2 separate regions of the Homo sapiens genome follow, and region 1 is linked to region 2. The links come from fine-mapping of genetic effects on gene expression. A gene starts in region 2. The other region holds a variant in brackets. All regions are shown on one strand. Distances are between the middles of the regions.

Region 1 (8,331 bases), 60 kb before region 2:
GGTTGCAGTGAGCCAAGATCGGGCCACTGCACTCCAGCCTGGGCAACAAGAGTGAGTCTCCAAAAAAAAAAAAAAAAAAAAAAAAAAATCCAAGCTCCTTTTCATGGCCCACAAGGCCTTATGTGATCCACCTCCTGCCTGCTCTCCTACTGCATTTCTTGCCACTTTTCTCATTGTTTAGGACACACACACGCCCATATTTCATACATACATGTGCCTGCTCAGCATTGTCCCCTCATTGTATGGTTCTTTCCCTGGCTGCCTTCTTCTCATCATTCAGGTCCCAGCCTGGCAGTCACACCCTTGTCACGTTCCTGGACCAGGCCCAGGTTTTTACTTGTGTGTTTCCTTCACAGTACTAAGAAGGACTGGAAATATTCACACGTGGTTGCACATTATGCACTCCCTGCTCACTCCTCCTCCCACCAATGTGCAATGCCAGCTCCACGGGAGAAGGGACTTAATTTTTGTTTCCACGTAAGTACTCAATAAAGTTAATAACTTAAATTGCAGTTTTGCTGAAGTGTCAAACACGGCCACCTGTAATCCCAGCACTCTGGGAGGTGGAGGCAGGAGGATCGAGCCCAGGAGTTCAAGACCAGACTGGGCAACATGGCGAGACCCCATCTCTTTTACAAAAATAAGAAAAATGTACTGGGTGTGGTGGCACGAAGAGATGAAGCATGGGACTCTTGGACTCATTCAACCATCTCAGTAGAAGTCAGGAATAGAGATGGGATTATCCCAGAAAATTTGTGGAGGACCCTCTTGTCTAATGGCATTGAACTCCATGACATTACACAGGGGACCCACAAGATTTTTGAGAATGTTACATCAGCAGAGACAGCTTAGCCTGGAAGTGACAGAGACAGTGTGAAATGAGAAAAGGCTGTTGAAATCCAAACTGCTACGGGCAAGAAATGGGCTGATAGAGCTACTGGGCTGCAAACATGCGATCCTTCAAGAAAAAGCAAGAATGACTCCAAGGGCAGAGCCAGGGGCACAGAGGCAGAGGCCAGAGGAGCAGACAGAAGTGATGGATGCAGAGACACAGGCCTATGAGGTCACTGTGAGCACAGACTCAGAGGCCTATGGAGCCACCATGGGTACAGAGAGGCCCATGGTTCTGCTGTGAGCAGACACAAAGGTCTGCACAACTGTTGTGGGCCCAGTGGGCGGCACTTCAAGCTAGGGAATTATTTGCAGGCCTTGAATCCTAATGGAATTTTCTCTGCTAGATCAAAATTGGTTGGGAATGGTGACTTCTTTATCCCTTCCAATTTTCCCTTTCAGAATGAGAACATCTATCATATGCCTATTACATCATTTTAAATAAATTTATTTATCCAAATTCCAAAGTTATTTGGAAGCTGATAACCTGTAGTATCACAGGTCCACAGCCAGAGAAATTTAATCCTAAAATGAATCATGCACGGGGTCTCACCCACATCTGACTTAGATGATGAGATGCAGGACTTCTGAGCTAATATATAGATGCAAATTTGGTCTTAGTTCATGCTGTATGAGTTGAGACTTTGGGAGATGTTGGGAGGAATAAATGTCTTTTTCATGTAGGACAAATATGGATTTTGGGGTGCCAGAGGGTGGACTGTAGTGGGCTGAATGGTGGCCCCCAAGAAGATGTCCACATCATAATCTCCAGAGCCTGTGAACATTACCTCATATGGCAAACTGTGATTACATGAAACATCTTGAGACAAAGTGCTTACCCTGGATTTTTCAAATTGGCTCTAAATCCAATGGCAAGTATTCTTGTAAGAGATACACAGCAGAGATGTGACAGAGAAAGCGGCAGCAATATGACCCAGGGGCAGAGATGCAGTCACAAGCCAAGGATTGCCTAAAGCCAACAGAAGCTGGACGCCACCAGGGATAGAACCTCCCTAGAGCCTTCAGAAGAGGTGTGATCCTGTTCACACCTTTATTTCAGACTTCTGGCCTCCGGAACTGGGAGAGAATAAGTTTCTGTCATTTAAGCCACCAAAGTTGTGGTAACTAGCTAGGGCAGGTCTAGGAAACTAACGCAGGTAGAGAGAGCAGGCTTTCTTGTCTGTGCCCATTGGTTGGCTTCTCCAGCACTCATATCTTTTTTTTTTTTTTTTTTTGAGACAGAGTCTTGCTCTGTCACCCATGCAGTGGCATGATCTTGGCTCACTGCAACCTCCGCCTCCCGGGTTCAAGCGATTCTCCTGCCTCAGCCTCCTGAGTAGCTGGGATTACAGCCGCATGCCACCACACCCGGCTAATTTTTGTATTTTTAGTAGAGGCGGGGTTTCACCATGTTGGTCGGGCTGGTCTCAAACTCCTGACCTCCTGATCCGCCCGCCTTGGCCTTCCGAAGCCAGCACTCAACCTTGAGACAAAAAGAAAAGCCACGGAATAACTACCAGAGTCCTTCCTCAGATCCCAAGGTCCAGGGATAGTCTTCCGTCTTATCTCTACCTTTCAGAGTCTTGTGTTTGTTTATGTGACCAAGGAGTTTAGCTGTACTTACTGAGAGGAAAAAATGTATCTATCTAATCTTTTTGGAAGCAGACATACTAACTCCTGGATTTTCACTTTTTTTTTTTTTTTTTGAGACAAAGTTTCGCTCTTTTTGCCCAGGCTGGAGTGCAATGGCACAATCTCTGCTCACTGCAACCTCTGCCTCCTAGGTTCAAGCGATTCTCCTGCCTCAGCCTCCCGAGTAGCTGGGATTACAGGCATGTCCCACCACGCCTGGCTTTTGTATTTTTAGTAGAGACGGGGTTTCTCCATATTGGTCAGGCTGGTCTCGAACTCCCGACCTCAGGTGATCTGCCTGCCTCAGCCTCCCAAAGTGTTGGAATTACAGGCGTGAGCCACCGCGCCCGGCCTGGATTTTCACTTTTTAATCAATTACACTGTTTCAGCCATAAACTTTTTTTTTTTCCATTTTTTTTCTTTCTTTTCACAACTTGTCCTGTAACTGAACAGCCATAAACTTTTAAAATGACTGCTTTGGTTGGCATTTTCTTCGTCAAAATTCTTCAGTGGCTCAGTTGCCTGTAACATAAGCTCACAGCCCTTAGCCCAACATCCTTTCCCTCCCCAATCTGCCCGTCCTTGCCTTTCGGGTGTTATTTCCCACTGTCATTTACCAGGGTTTCCAAAATTGTGCTTTATTAAATGCTAGTTCATTGGAATGTTAATACATGTTTCACACACACAATCAGCAGGAGAAAATGTTTCTATAGCCAAATGACATTGATAAACAGTGTTCTTACACAAAGTTAAGCCTGTTTCTTTATTATAAGACTTTTCAGATACTTTCCCAGTGCATAGTGTGAATCTCCACAAAGCAAGTGAAACATGAATAGCTCCCTAAACTTACTTGACCACAGAATGCTTCATTCT[A/G]TCTCCATGGAAACCACTTGTGAAAGTCTCCTACTCCAACTTTCTTCTCCAACAAAACTCACCTGTTTGTGATCATCTGAACTCATTTTGTGCTCTTGCCTTTATATAAAAGAGAAGTTCTGTGAAATGTTGAAGAAGCAGGGTTATGGCACTAGTAATGATCCAGGCACTATACAAATTGTTAAAATTTTCCATTATTTTAGTTCAGAAGCCCTAACCATAGGTATTCTAACAGTGGATTGTGGAACCCAGTATGAGTGTTTGAGACATGTTACAAAATATAGGAGCTATTTTTAAAATGAATCCATTTAATAATACTGCTAGATGCTGTGAGAGACAGGGACTCCCCGGCCCAGCACACACGCTTGAGCAGGAATGGAGACATGGGCATGGGTAGGCAGGCTGGTGGTCAGCAGATACCCTTTCTGTCCCTCCTCTGTGACAATCACCCCCAAGTAATTTTTGGGATTCAGAATAAGGCAGCTGCTCTCCCATCCTGGTTACTATGAGTCGCTCTTGGCAGAAAGGACCACAGATGGAGAGCTTGGCACTCGCTCCAACTTTGCCGAAAAGAGGACAACCACCAAAGTAGTAGGTAAAAACACAATTTTAGCAGCAGTGAAATAAAAAGAGGAAGTGAGGATGGGGCCAGGCCGCAACTATAATTAAACTGTCTGTTTAGGAGAAGCTGAATCCAGAAGAAACACAAGCTGTAAAGTGAGAGAGGACAGGGAGCAGGGCCTTTGGAGAGCAGGAGAGGACAGGCTGTCACCAAGCGCTGCTCGGACTCTGCCCTGAAAGATTTGAATTGGACACTGTCCAGTCACGTGTGTGGCAAACCGTACTCCAAGCACTTTTCTCACGGCAGAGGAAGGAGCTGCCATGGCTGTACCCCTGAACGTTTGTGGGGCCAGCGATGTGCGCTGGGCCTCTGTAATGGAGGACCTCCAGTGTGCAGACAAGGCGCCGGCAGTGCCCACGGAGGGCTGCGTCCTGGGTCCTGGGTGAAAGTCACAGCTGCTGAGGAAGCGAGAGCTCCATCTGGATACCAGAGACCCCTGGGCCATCAGTGCAGCAGGAACCACCATGTGAGAGCCGCGGCCAGGCAGCCCCACGTCACGCGGCCTGCTCCAGGCAGCCCCATGTCAGGGGGTCGAGTCCCCCCACTGCACAAGGCCTGCTATGGGCTGCCCCATGTCAGGGGGTCGAGTCCCCCCACATCATGAGGCCTGCTCCAGGCAGCTGTGCTCTTCTTCTTCCGTCTGTAACCAGCTCCAGTCTAGGGCCTGAAAGTCAACAGACATGTTAAAAAAACAACAGCCACCAACACATTTCAGGTTATTTTTCCTCTTCAGGAGGAAATCAGGACAATTGAGAAATATACTAAAACCCAGCCAGGCACAGTGGCTCATGCCTATAATCCCAACACTTTGGGAGGCCAAGGTGGGCAGATCATGAGGTCAGGAGTTCGAGACCAGCCTGGCCAAAATGGTGAAACCCCATTTCTACTAAAAATACAAAATTAGCCAGGCGTGGTGGCAAGCTCCTATAGTCCCAGCTACTCAGGAGGCTGAGGCAGGAGAATCACTTGAACCTGGGAGGTAGGGGTTGCAGTGAGCTGAGATCGTGCCATTGCACTCCACCCTGGGCAAAAGAGCAAGACTCCATCTCAAAAAATAAAAAATAAAAAGAAATATATTGAAACCCCTTTATTGGCTGGGTATGGTGGCTCATGCCTATAGTTCCAGCACTTTGGGAGGCAGAGGCGAGCGGATCGCTTGAGGCCAGGAGTTCAAGACCAGCCTGGGCAACATAGCAAGACCCAGGCTGCATAAAACAAATAAATTAAACAAATACAAATTAAAAAGCCAAACCCTTTTATTAATAAATCTTGTGACTGCAGGGTACTCTTAAGCTAAGTTACATATTCAAACTGTACAGGATCTTTTCTTTGAATTGGCTCAGAGTCCTTGAGATTCTGTGACTGTGGGAATTAGAAAGTCGACGTCAGTACCACTGTGGCTCACAGCACTCACTCCCATGCTCACTGTGGGTAGCTAATCTCAGTTATGGATTTCCAGCCTCACCACATGACTTGGCCTGATGAGACTTCCTCTTCCTCCCACAGACATGCAAGTAAGCAATGAACTGATCAAAACATTATCATGCCAGGAGGAGGAGAGCAGCAAGAGATATAGAATGTCCACAGACTGGAGGAGGACATGCGACTACATCAGCAAAGGCTGCAATTCACAGTGGTATCCCTTGTAATTCTTCCAAAAGCTTAAAGTTAGGGGAGGTTAGCAAGTGATTAGCAGGTAAAGGCCATGTAAAGATCTAAGCAAATGATGCAGGATTCTCTCAACAATGGAAGCTTTGTCTTAATGTACCTGTAACTTGGCTAGTTTTCTCATAACTAGTACTACCTACCACTAAGCTCCAAGGCCCTGAGGACAAGGCCATGGCTGGTTCCTGCTCCCAGCCCAGCACTCAACACACAAATACTCAGCAGTAGTACCAATGGTGCAGGTGGGGACAGGCTTCTGGGAACAATGCTACCTTCTTCCTCATCATCGGAATTAAGTGTTCCAAGGATTAAATAAGATAATGCATACATGTAGTTGTAAGCCTTCAATAATTGTTAGACATCACTATTATTATGAATAATAAAAAATGTGTACTAGAAAATTATAAATATACACTGAAAAAATCAGCTGAATGTGGTGACGCACGCCTGTAGTCCCAGCTACTCAGGAGGCTGAGGCATGAGAATCACTTGAACCCGGGAAGCGGAGGTTGCAGTGAGCCAAGATCATGCCACTGCACTCCAGCCTGGGTGAGAGAGAGAGACCCTGTCACAAATAAACAAGCAAACAAACAAACACTGAGGTTGAGGATAATGCCAGATTGCATTTCCATTTTCTCTTCTATTTTGCCATAGAAAGAAAGGACATGGAATCGCAGGAGTCTCACACAAGCTGTTACCGTGAAACTCTGGTCTTGTTCCCTCACAGTGTCCTGTATGGCATTTTCTAGCAGGGTGCAGAGGTTATGTGCTTCAGCCACCAGTTCTTCACTAAAGAAAATGATCAAATTATTAGAAAGTGGTCATTATTAGTTATCAGAGCTAACACTGCTATTTTAAAATATGCTAGAGAGTTTTGATAATACTTTTTAAATGAAGTAACAATTATTTTGATCCTGAGTGTCTTAAAACACCAACCCACTGACTAATACTTTCATTCATCTTGTTATGCACTTTCCACATATGAGCGTTACTGTCCAAAATGCAAAAAAGCAAACAGATCTCAATAAAAGTCAGAAGCAAAAAAACCTCTTTCTGCTTTCTGACTTACTAGATAGCTGAATTTAATTTTCAAACTGCCAAAATCTAAAGATATTCTCCAAATCACCTGTTTTCCAATTTTTGAAGTAGACAAAAAAAAGGCCAAGGAATTTATCAGGATTCACAGTTCCTTGGAATCTGTTGAAAATCAAGTTCTGGGATTTGGTTTCATCTAATCTGATCTCTCTCTTTTCTATAATAAGAAACCCATGTTTCCTCTGAGGACTGGGCCACAGTGAAAAAGAGCAGCATGTAGTAAAACATCCGTCTTTTTCTAACCTCAGCTCTATGCTGTGGGGAGACGAGAGACATCCTATATACCCAGGTCCACCTTTCTAGACCTTTGAGGACATCACTGAAGGGAATAAGCCACATAAAGGAAGACTGCCCTGGAACTCCTCTCACTCTGCAAAATGTGACAATCTGATGGCAGGAGCTCAGAGCACATTTCTGCCAAGCCTCATCTATGGGGCCTCTAGCTAGCCTAAAGGCTCAGTGCCTGCCCCAGAAGGGAATGGAACAGGCTCCCGGTCTAGCTACTATACTCCAGGAGCTCATGAGAGGTTGGGGAAATAATTTTTATTTAAAAAAAAAAAAAAAAAAAAAGGGCCGGGTGCGGTGGCTCACGCCTGTAATCCCAGCACTTTGGGAGACCAAGGCGGGCGGATCACCCAAGGTCGGGAGTTCGAGATCAGCCTGACCAACAGGCTGGAGAAACCCTGTCTCTAATAAAAATACAAAATTGGCCGGGCGCGGTGGCTCACGCCTGTAATCCCAGCACTTTGGGAGGCCGAGGCGGGTGGATCATGAGGTCAGGAGATCGAGACCATCCTGGCTAACAAGGTGAAACCCCGTCTCTACTAAAAATACAAAAAATTAGCCGGGCGCGGTGGCGGGCGCCTGTAGTCCCAGCTACTCGGGAGGCTGAGGCAGGAGAATGGCGTGAACCCGGGAAGCGGAGCTTGCAGTGAGCCGAGATTGCGCCACTGCAGTCCGCAGTCCGGCCTGGGCAACAGAGCGAGACTCCGTCTCAAAAAAAAAAAAAAATACAAAATTAGCCAGGCCTGGTGGCTCATGCCTGTAATCCCAGCTACTCGGAAGGCTGAGGCAGGAGAATCGCTTGAACCCAGGAGGCTGAGTTTGAGGTGAGCTGAGATCGTGCCATAGCACTCCAGCCTAGGCAACAAGAGCGAAACTCCATTTCAAAAAAAAAAAAAAAAAGGCTGGGTGCAGTGGCTCATGCCTGTAATCCCAGCACTTTGGGAGGCTGAGGCAGGTGGATCACAAGGTCAGGAGATTGAGACCATCCTGGCTAATACGGTGAAACCCCATCTCTACTAAAACTACAAAAAATCAGCCGGTTGTGGTGGCATGCACCTGTAGTCCCAGCTACTCGGGAGGCTGAGGCAGAAGAATCACTTGAACCTGAGAGGTGGAGGTTGCAGTGAGCCAAGATCGCGCCACTGCACTCCAGCCTGGGCAACAGAGCAAGAGTCTGTCTCAAAAAAAAAAAAAAAAAAAAAGAGAGAGAGAGAGACAGTCTCACCATGTTGCCCAGGAGACTTGCCTCGAACTCCTGCGAACCTCCT
Region 2 (8,331 bases):
ATCAGTTTATCAAAGAGATATGGGCACCCTCACGTTTACTGCAGCACTATTCACAATAGCCAAAATATGTAATCAACCTAAATGTCCATCAATGAACAAATGAACAAAGAAAATGTGGTACACAGACACAATGTACTCTTATTCAGCCATAAAAAAGAATGAAATCCTGCCATCTGTGGCAACATGGATGAGCTTGGAGGGCATTACATTAAGGGAATTAAGCCAGGCCCAGGGAGATAAATACCACATGTTCTCACTCATCCGTGGGAGCTAATAAAAAACTGATCTCAGTTGGGTAAAGTCTGTTGGCTGACACCTGTAATCCCAGCACTTTGAGAGGCTGAGGTGGGAGGATCACTTGTGTCCAGGAATTCGAGACCAGCCTGGGCAACAGACAGACCTCCTATCTACAAAAAATCAAAAATTAGCCGGGCATGGCAACGCACACCTGTAGTCCCAGCTACTCAGGAGGCCGAGGCAGAAGGATCATTTGAGCCCAGGAGGTCAAGGCTACAGTGAGCCATGATGGCACCACTGCACTCAGCCTGGATGACAGATTGAGACCCTATCTCCAAAGAAATTAAAAATTAAAAAAAAAAAAATGCCAGGCACAGTGGCTCATGCCTGTAATCCCAGTACTTTGGGAGGCCGAGGCAGGCAGATCGCCTGAAGTCAGGAGTTTGAGACCAGACTGGCCAACATGGTAAAACCCTGTCTCTACTAAAAATACAAAAATTAGCCAGGCGTGGTGGTGCACGGCTATAATCCCAGCTACTTGGGAGGCTGAGGCTGGAGAATCGCTTGAACCTGGGAGACACCAGTTGCAGCGAGCCAAGATTGTGCCACTGCACTCCAGCTTGGGCAACAGAGCAAGAATCCATCTCAAAAAACAAAACAAACAAACAAAAAAAAACTGATCTCGTCCAGGCTCGGTAGTTCCCACCTGTAATCCCAGCACTTTGGGAGGCTGGGATGGCGGGGGGGGGGGGGGGCGCGCCGGCGGGGATCACCTAAGTTCAGGAGTTCGAGACCAGCCTGGCCAACATGGTGAAACCCCGTCTCTATTAAAAATACAAAAATTAGCCAGGTGTGGTGGCAGGCACCTGTAATCTCAGCAACTCGGGAGGCTGGGGCAGGAGAATCACTTGAACCTGGGAGGCAGAGGTTGCAGTGAGCCAAGATCGCGCCACTGCACTCCAGCCTGGGCGACAAGAGCAAAACTCCGTCTCAAAACAACAACAACAACAACAACAAACTAATCTCGCAGAAGTAGAAAGTAGAATAGTGGTCACCAGAGGCAGGAAAGGGTGGTGGGGGTGGGGGGAGTTGTGGAGGGAAATAGGGAGAGACTGGTTAATGGGTACAAAATTACGGTTAGGTGGAATAAGTTACAGTATTCTAAAGAACAACAGGGTGACTACAGTGAATAAAACTTTATTGTATATTTCAGGCCGGACGTAGTGGCTCACGCTTGTAATCCAAGCACTTTGGGTGGCTGAGGTGGGCAGATCACCTGAGGTCAGGAGTTTGAGACCGGCATGGCCTACATGGTGAAACCCCATTTCTACTAAAAATACAAAAATTAGCTGGCATGGTGGTGCACACCTGTAATTCCAGGTACTCAGGAGGCTGAGGCAGGAGAATCACTTGAACTCAAGAGGCGGAGGTTGCAGTGAGCCAAGATCACACCACTGCACTCCAGCCTGGGCAACAGTGCGAGACTCTGTCTCCGGAAAAAAAAAAATATTGTATATTTCAAAATAGCCAGAAGAAAGAATTTTGACTGTTTCCAACAAAAAGGATACGTGTTTCAAGTGATGAACACGCCAATTACCCCGATTTGATCATTACACATTATGTATCAAAATATCACACTGTACCCCATAAATATGTACAATTATTATGTGTCAATTAAAAATAAAAACAGGCCAGGTTCAATGACTCATGGCTGTAATCCCAGCACTTTGAGAGGCCAAGGCAGGAAGATCACTTGAGGCCAAGAGTTCTAGACGAGCCTGGACAACATTGTGAGACCACCATCACTACAAAAAATAAAAAAAAAACCTCAGCTGAGGCCAGGTCCCATGGCTCAGGCCTGTAATCCAAACATTTTGGGAGGCAAAGACGGGAAGACTGCTTGAGGATGAGAGTTTGAGACAAGCCTGGGCAACATAGCAAGACCCCATCTCTACAAAATTTAAAAAAATGTTAATTATTTGAAATATGGATTTTCATCATCATTCTAAATGAATTCTCACTTTCATGTGGATCTGCTTATTTTTTGCCGTGCAGTATCGCAAGCAATACTGGGAAGACATCATAATTAGCAAATATTTTAAATATATATATATATATATATTTTTTGAGACAGGGTCTCATTCTGTCACCCAGGCTGGAATGCAGTGACACTATCTCGGCTCACTGCAACCTCTGCCTCCTGGGTTCAAGCGATTCTCCTGCCTCAGCCTCCTGAGTAGCTGAAGTTACAGGCATGCACCACCACACCAGCTAATTTTGTATTTTTAGTAGAGATGAGGTTTCACCATGTTGGCCAGGCTGGTCTCAAACTCCTGACCTCAAGTGATCCTCCTGCCTCGGCCTCCCAAAGTGCTGGGATTACAGGTGTAAGCCACTGCACCCGACATTTAAAATAATTTTTAAAAAATGGTTTTGAAACAAGGTCTCACTCTGTCACCTAGGCTAGAGTGCAGTGGCACAATCATAGCTCACTACAGCCTCAAACTCCTGGACAAGCAATCCTCCCACATCAGCCTCCAATGTAGTGGGACTACAGGTACGCACCAAGGCTGCCTAAGGTTTTTTTTTTTTTTTTTTTTTTGAGACGGAGTCTCACTCTGTTACCCAGGCTGGAGTGCAGTAGCGCAATCTTGGCTCACTGCAACCTCCGCCTCATGGGTTCAAGCGATTCTCCTGCCTCAGCCTCCCAAGTAGCTGGGGACTACAGGCACGTGCCACCAAGCCTGGCTAATTCTTTGTATTTTTAGTAGAGATGGGGTTTCACAGTGTTAGCCAGGATGGTCTCCATCTCCTGACTGCGTGATCCGCCTGCCTCAGCCTCCCAAAGTGCTGAGATTACAGGTATAAGCCACCACGCCCAGCTGGCTGCCTAATTTTTAAACCTTTTTTGTAGAGACGAGGTCTTGCTATGTTGCCCAGGCTGCTCTTGAACTACTGGCCTCAAGGAATTAAAATATTTTAAATTATTTATTTAGTCTCATCCTTTAAATTTTCCTATTTCTATATGTTTTATAACATATAATATCAGTATATATTAGTACATGATATTCTACTGTTACCATATATATATAATAGAGACTAAGAGCTTAACTTTATTTTACTATTTATTTAGGTGACATAGTCAATAAAGCATGGAGACCACTAACCTGGAGTCAGCTCAGAAGTCCTGAAGCCCTCTTCCCAGTCCCCCTATTCACTGTCCCAAGATGACCAAAGCCAAAGGTGAGCCCTTGGCCCAGCAGGATCAGAGAAAGTGGAGGCAGTGAGGAGGGGGCCTGGCTCCCCGCCCCTCCCCAAGCTGCACAGAGGGCCTACCTGATTGTGCCATCGGATGACATTTCCAAATCCCCCTGTCCCAAGGCGCTCTTTCATTTCCCAGGCCCCACATGTCTGCGTTGTCAGGGAAGGTGACCAGCTCATACTGATGTCGTGCTAACTCTATAAGCAATTTGGGATGGGGAAAAAAGGTTAGGATTAAGAAAAAAATGGAGCTCAAAGGGATGGAGAAGGCAAGAGATACCACTGCTCTTGAATGGGAGAGAAGAAAAATACAACTGGTTTTTTATTTTGTAAAGAAACCAATGTGTTTGGTTGGTCCAAACTTTGTGGCAAACTTTTGTCCCTCTCACCCTCCCCCATCCGGTTGCTGTGGCATCAGGCAAGGAAGAAAGTCACCGAGGGAGGCGATGCCCACGCCCTTGCCCTAGCGAGGGGATCCCCAGCTGACTCCACCAGGGGCGCCCGGGCCTGCCCGCCTTCTGCCCGAGGTGGCAGGGGCAGAACCTACTTCTGAGCATCGCCGAGGTCACGTGTTTCTTTACAATGTTCCCATAAATCGCAGGTTCCCCTCAAAGCCACCCACCCCCAAGAAGCCACCCCAGGGAGAGCTGTTTCTCCCGGCTTCCCGAACTCCAACCCGCACAAGTGAAACGCTCCCCAGTCCGCAAGCTGCGACTTCCCAGCGGCACAGAGGGGTCTTCCGGGCCTTGCAGGCAGCGGGGCGGCGGGGCCTGCAGGTGGCACCCGGGCCGCACCCACGAGGGGGACTCACCTGTCGGCAGGGACGCGGGGCAGGGGGCGGGCTCCCCGGGGCGGGGAAGGCGGGGCTGGGGCGGCCAAACCCGGGGCTATGACACCCCCCTGAAAACATTAAAATGCGGGAATCTTAACGCGGGCAGCGCGGCGCGACTTCCTCAAACACTTCCTGCTCTGACGTCACGGAGCACGTTGGCCGCGGCCGCTCTTAAAGAGGCCGCTCCCGGCGCGAGGCAGACCAGGTCCGGATGCTGCGAGTGCTGCGCCTGTCCCGGGACCCTCGACCGGGCGACTCCCCCGGGGCGGGGGTGGCGTGTGGTCTCTAGACAACTGAGGGAAAGTAGACAGACCGTGCTCACCGATTTAAAAGAACAGCCCTGAAATGACCCCCGTTACACCCTGTTCTCTTTAGACAAGTTACTTCCACCTGGAGCGGTTTCTGGGCCCGGGTATGGGGATTTCTTCACCCGGCCCCCTAGGCTTTCACCTCGGTGGAATTTCCCGCGCCCCCGCTGGGATGATTTAGGGACTGTTGGCTAGAACTGCCCTTGCCTACCGCCCTACTGCGGGCGCTCCCCTGTCTGGGGGGTGCTTGGCTGGGTGTGGAGAAGGATCAATCACAGCTGACTCCTCAGAGGTGACAGCCCCTGCCCCCTTAAAAACAAGAAAAGACCTAGCAGTGTGAAGCCAAACTGCACCCCCAGCCCCGGTGACATGAGGAAACCGTGAGGCGCTCAGCCTGAGGTTCATCGTTCATCTCCTTCCTGCTTGGAATCAGAATGTCCTCACTGCTGAGTTTCTCCGTTTTATGGGATTACATTAGTGGACAAAGGAGGTGTGTGTGTGTGTTGCTATATTTTATTCAAGCAGAAAAAAACTACCAAAGGAACCTGAAGATGATAATAATAGCTCACATCTATAGAGTGCTTACACAGTGCAGGGCTCTGTTCTAAATCTCTGTACTTAGATTTCCTTATTCAATCCTCAGGGCAACCCTGTAAATTGGAAAATACTGCATCATCATCATCATTATTATTATTATCTCGCTCTGTCACCCAGGCTGGAGTGCAGTGGTGTGATCACAGCTCAGTGCAACCTCCAACTCCTGGGCTCAAGTGATTCTCCTGACTACAGGTGCGCGGCCGCCATACCTGGTGGCGGGGTCTCACTCACTGTGTTGCCCAGGCTGGTCTCCAACTCCTGGGCTCAAGGGATCCACCCGCCTGGGCTTCCCAAAGTGTTGAGATTACAGGCTGTGAGCCACTGCACCTGGTCTGCATTATTATTATTTCCAAGGTACATGGCTGCTACGTAGATGAGCTGATACTCAAACCCTAGCAACTGGTTCCCGGGTTCTTAATCCGTGGCTAAAAGTAGCATGTTAAGAAGTTCAGAAGGAGGCAAACTGGATTTTGAATCCAGATACTGCTGTTGACTACCTCTGAGGCACGGGGGCTGGTTACTTAAACACTGTGAGAACCTATTTCCTCTTTTAAAATTTAGGCAATATTAGGTTGAATTGCATTTAATTGTCATTTTTTGGAAATTGAAAACAGCCAAAACATCAGTAACAAAGATCAGCAGTTTCATCTGCTTCATTGTAATAGCAGGGGGACAGGCGGGCTCATAGAAAGTCATAGAAAGGAGGCCACCCCAGAGTTGTTGTGAGGGACAAATGAGGTATTGATAGCAGCAGTGCCTGACAGCCCTGGGGTTGAAGTTAACTCAGGGACAGATCTCAACCCAAACATAGGGGTCAATGGTGTCCAGGGCTGTGCTAGGCACGCTGGCTGCTCGGTTTCTCCCCTCTCCCCTCTTCCCTCTCCTTTCTCTTTTTCTTTCTCTCTCTCTCTCTTTTCCTTCCTTCCTTCCCCCTCCCCTCTCCTCCCCTCCCCTCCACTCCCCTCCCCTTCCCTTCCCTTCCCGGCTACTTGGTTTCTTTCTTTTCCTTCTTTTCCTTCCTTCCTATCTCTCCTCCTTCCTTCCTTCTTTCCTTCTTTCCTTTCCTTTTCCTCCCCTCCCCTCCCCTCCCCTCCCCTCCCCTCGCTTCCCCTCCCCTTCCCTTCCCAGCTGCTAGCTTTCTTTTTTTTCTTTCCTTTCTTTCTTCCTTTCCTTTCCTTTCTTCCTTTCCTTTCCTTTTCTTTCCTTTTCTTTCTTTTTTCTTTCTTGACAGGGCCTTTCTCTATCGCCCACTTTGGAGTATAGTGGCAGGATCACGGCTCACTGCAGTCTTGACCTCCTGGGTTCAAGGGGTCCTCCCGCCTCAGCCTCCCCACTAGCTGAGATTACAGGCACGTGCCACCATGACCAGCTAATTTTTAAATTTTATTTTGTTGACATGGGGGTCTCACTATGTTGCTCAGACTTGGCTTGAACTCCTGGCCTCAAAGCAATCCTCCCGCCTTGGCCTCCCTAAGTGCTGGGATTACAGGTGTGAGCCACCGCTTCTGGCCTGGTATTTCTTGATTACTCCCAGCTAAATGGCAAGCTCAGCCTCAAGGCCAGAAGCAACAGGAACATGAGTAAATAGTTGTAACACACGTAGAATAGTGACTGCATTGTCTAAGTGCAATATAAGTGTTTGCTTAATAAGTAAATTTTTTAAATAAAATATTTATTGGCCAGGTGAGGTGGCTCATGCCTGTAATCCCAGCACTTTGGGAGGCCAAGGTAGGCAGATCACTTGAGGTCAGGAATTTGAGACCAGCCTGGCCAACATGGTGAAACCACGTCTCTACGAAAAATACAAAAATTAGCTGGGCGTGGTGGCAGGTGCCTATAATCCCAGCTACTTGGGAGGCTGAGGCAGGAGAATCACTTGAACCCAGGAGCTGGAGGTTGCAGTGAGTGGAGATCGCACCAGTGCACTACAACGTGGGCGACAGAGCGAGACTCCATCTCAAAAAAAAAAATTTGGCCGGGTGTGGTGGCTCACCCCTGTAATCTCAGCACTTTGGAAGGCCGAGGCAGGCAGATCACTTGAGGTCAGGAGTTCAAGACTAGCCTGGCCAACATAGTGAAACCCCGTCTCTACTAAAAATACAAAAATTAGGCCAGGCACAGTGGCTTACACCTGTAATGCCAGCACTTTGGGAGGCCAAGGCGGGCAGATCACGAGGTCAGGAGATCAAGACCATCCTGGCCAATATGGTGAAACGCCATCTCTACTAAAAATACAAAAAAATTAGCTGGGCGTGGTGGCACGTGCCTGTAATCCAAGCTACTCGGGAGGCTGAGGCAGGAGAATCGCTTGAACCCAGGAGGCAGAGGTTGCAGTGAGCCGAGATCGTGCCATTGCACTCCAGCCTGGGCGACAAGAGCAAAACTCCATCTAAAAAAAAAAAAAAAAAAAAAAATTATTGAGCACCTATATGTGCTGGGCACTGTGGAGAGTCCATTTCCAGTACAATGTCATAAAAGGTTTCTCTTTAATCCTGTCATCTCTGAAAAACACTGTCCTGAGAAACTTACCAAGATGTCCGCTAATATGCCAAAAGTTTACTCTGCGCTCCTGTAATTTGAATCCTCATTTTGCTCAGCTCAAAATAACTTGGCTTTCAACTGAACATAAATCTCTCTGATAAGGTCACGTATTACTAGGCTTTTTTTTTCTTCAATTAATCATGGACCAGGAAGGGGCCTCTGGGTTTTATCATATTCCAAGATATTTATTATCTTAAGCTCAATTTTCTATCCAGATAAGACATGTTTAGCTATCTCTGCCTGCATCTGGTTTCTGTCCTGCTCTGGAGATATGAGCAGACTGTTTACAAAAGATATTTTCAGATTCAGCAGAAAAATGTCCCCTTTTCTTCCTGCTTTGAGGCTGAGTGTGCTTTTTAGCTGTGCTATAGGGAAATCAAGAAATACTGACCAGCCAGAGTGCCTAGCTCAGCCCAGGGCATTACTGACCCAGGGGATCCAAGCAATGGAATGAGATCTCATCAGAGGCACTTAGAATCTTACTGGGTTTTTAAGACCCACAGGGAGCCATGAAGTAAGGACAGACAAAGGCCAGGCAATATAAAATCACACACG

Evidence for each region. PIP is the estimated chance that this variant, and not a neighbour inherited with it, causes the effect.
Region 1: its variant is fine-mapped to the expression of IKBKB in whole blood (TOPMed, PIP above 0.99).

Annotation. Positions count from the first base shown.
Region 1 is chr8:42,327,265-42,335,595 of GRCh38, reverse strand. It overlaps IKBKB (inhibitor of nuclear factor kappa B kinase subunit beta), which reads right to left. Exons shown (of 22, transcript NM_001556.3): 21 at 6,382-6,472; 22 at 3,136-4,682. The coding sequence ends at 4,617. Among named protein-coding and RNA genes, the nearest start is that of POLB, 7.1 kb to the left of the region's middle. RefSeq lists an enhancer at 4,458-4,958. The variant A/G (reference allele first, on the strand shown) is at 3,397.
Region 2 is chr8:42,267,448-42,275,778 of GRCh38, reverse strand. IKBKB (inhibitor of nuclear factor kappa B kinase subunit beta) reads right to left here and starts at 4,477. Exons shown (of 22, transcript NM_001556.3): 1 at 4,310-4,477; 2 at 3,574-3,696. The coding sequence starts at 3,678. It overlaps IKBKB-DT (IKBKB divergent transcript), which reads left to right and starts at 4,529. Exons shown (of 4, transcript NR_185843.2): 1 at 4,529-5,128. RefSeq lists a silencer at 4,197-4,486 and an enhancer at 4,983-5,482.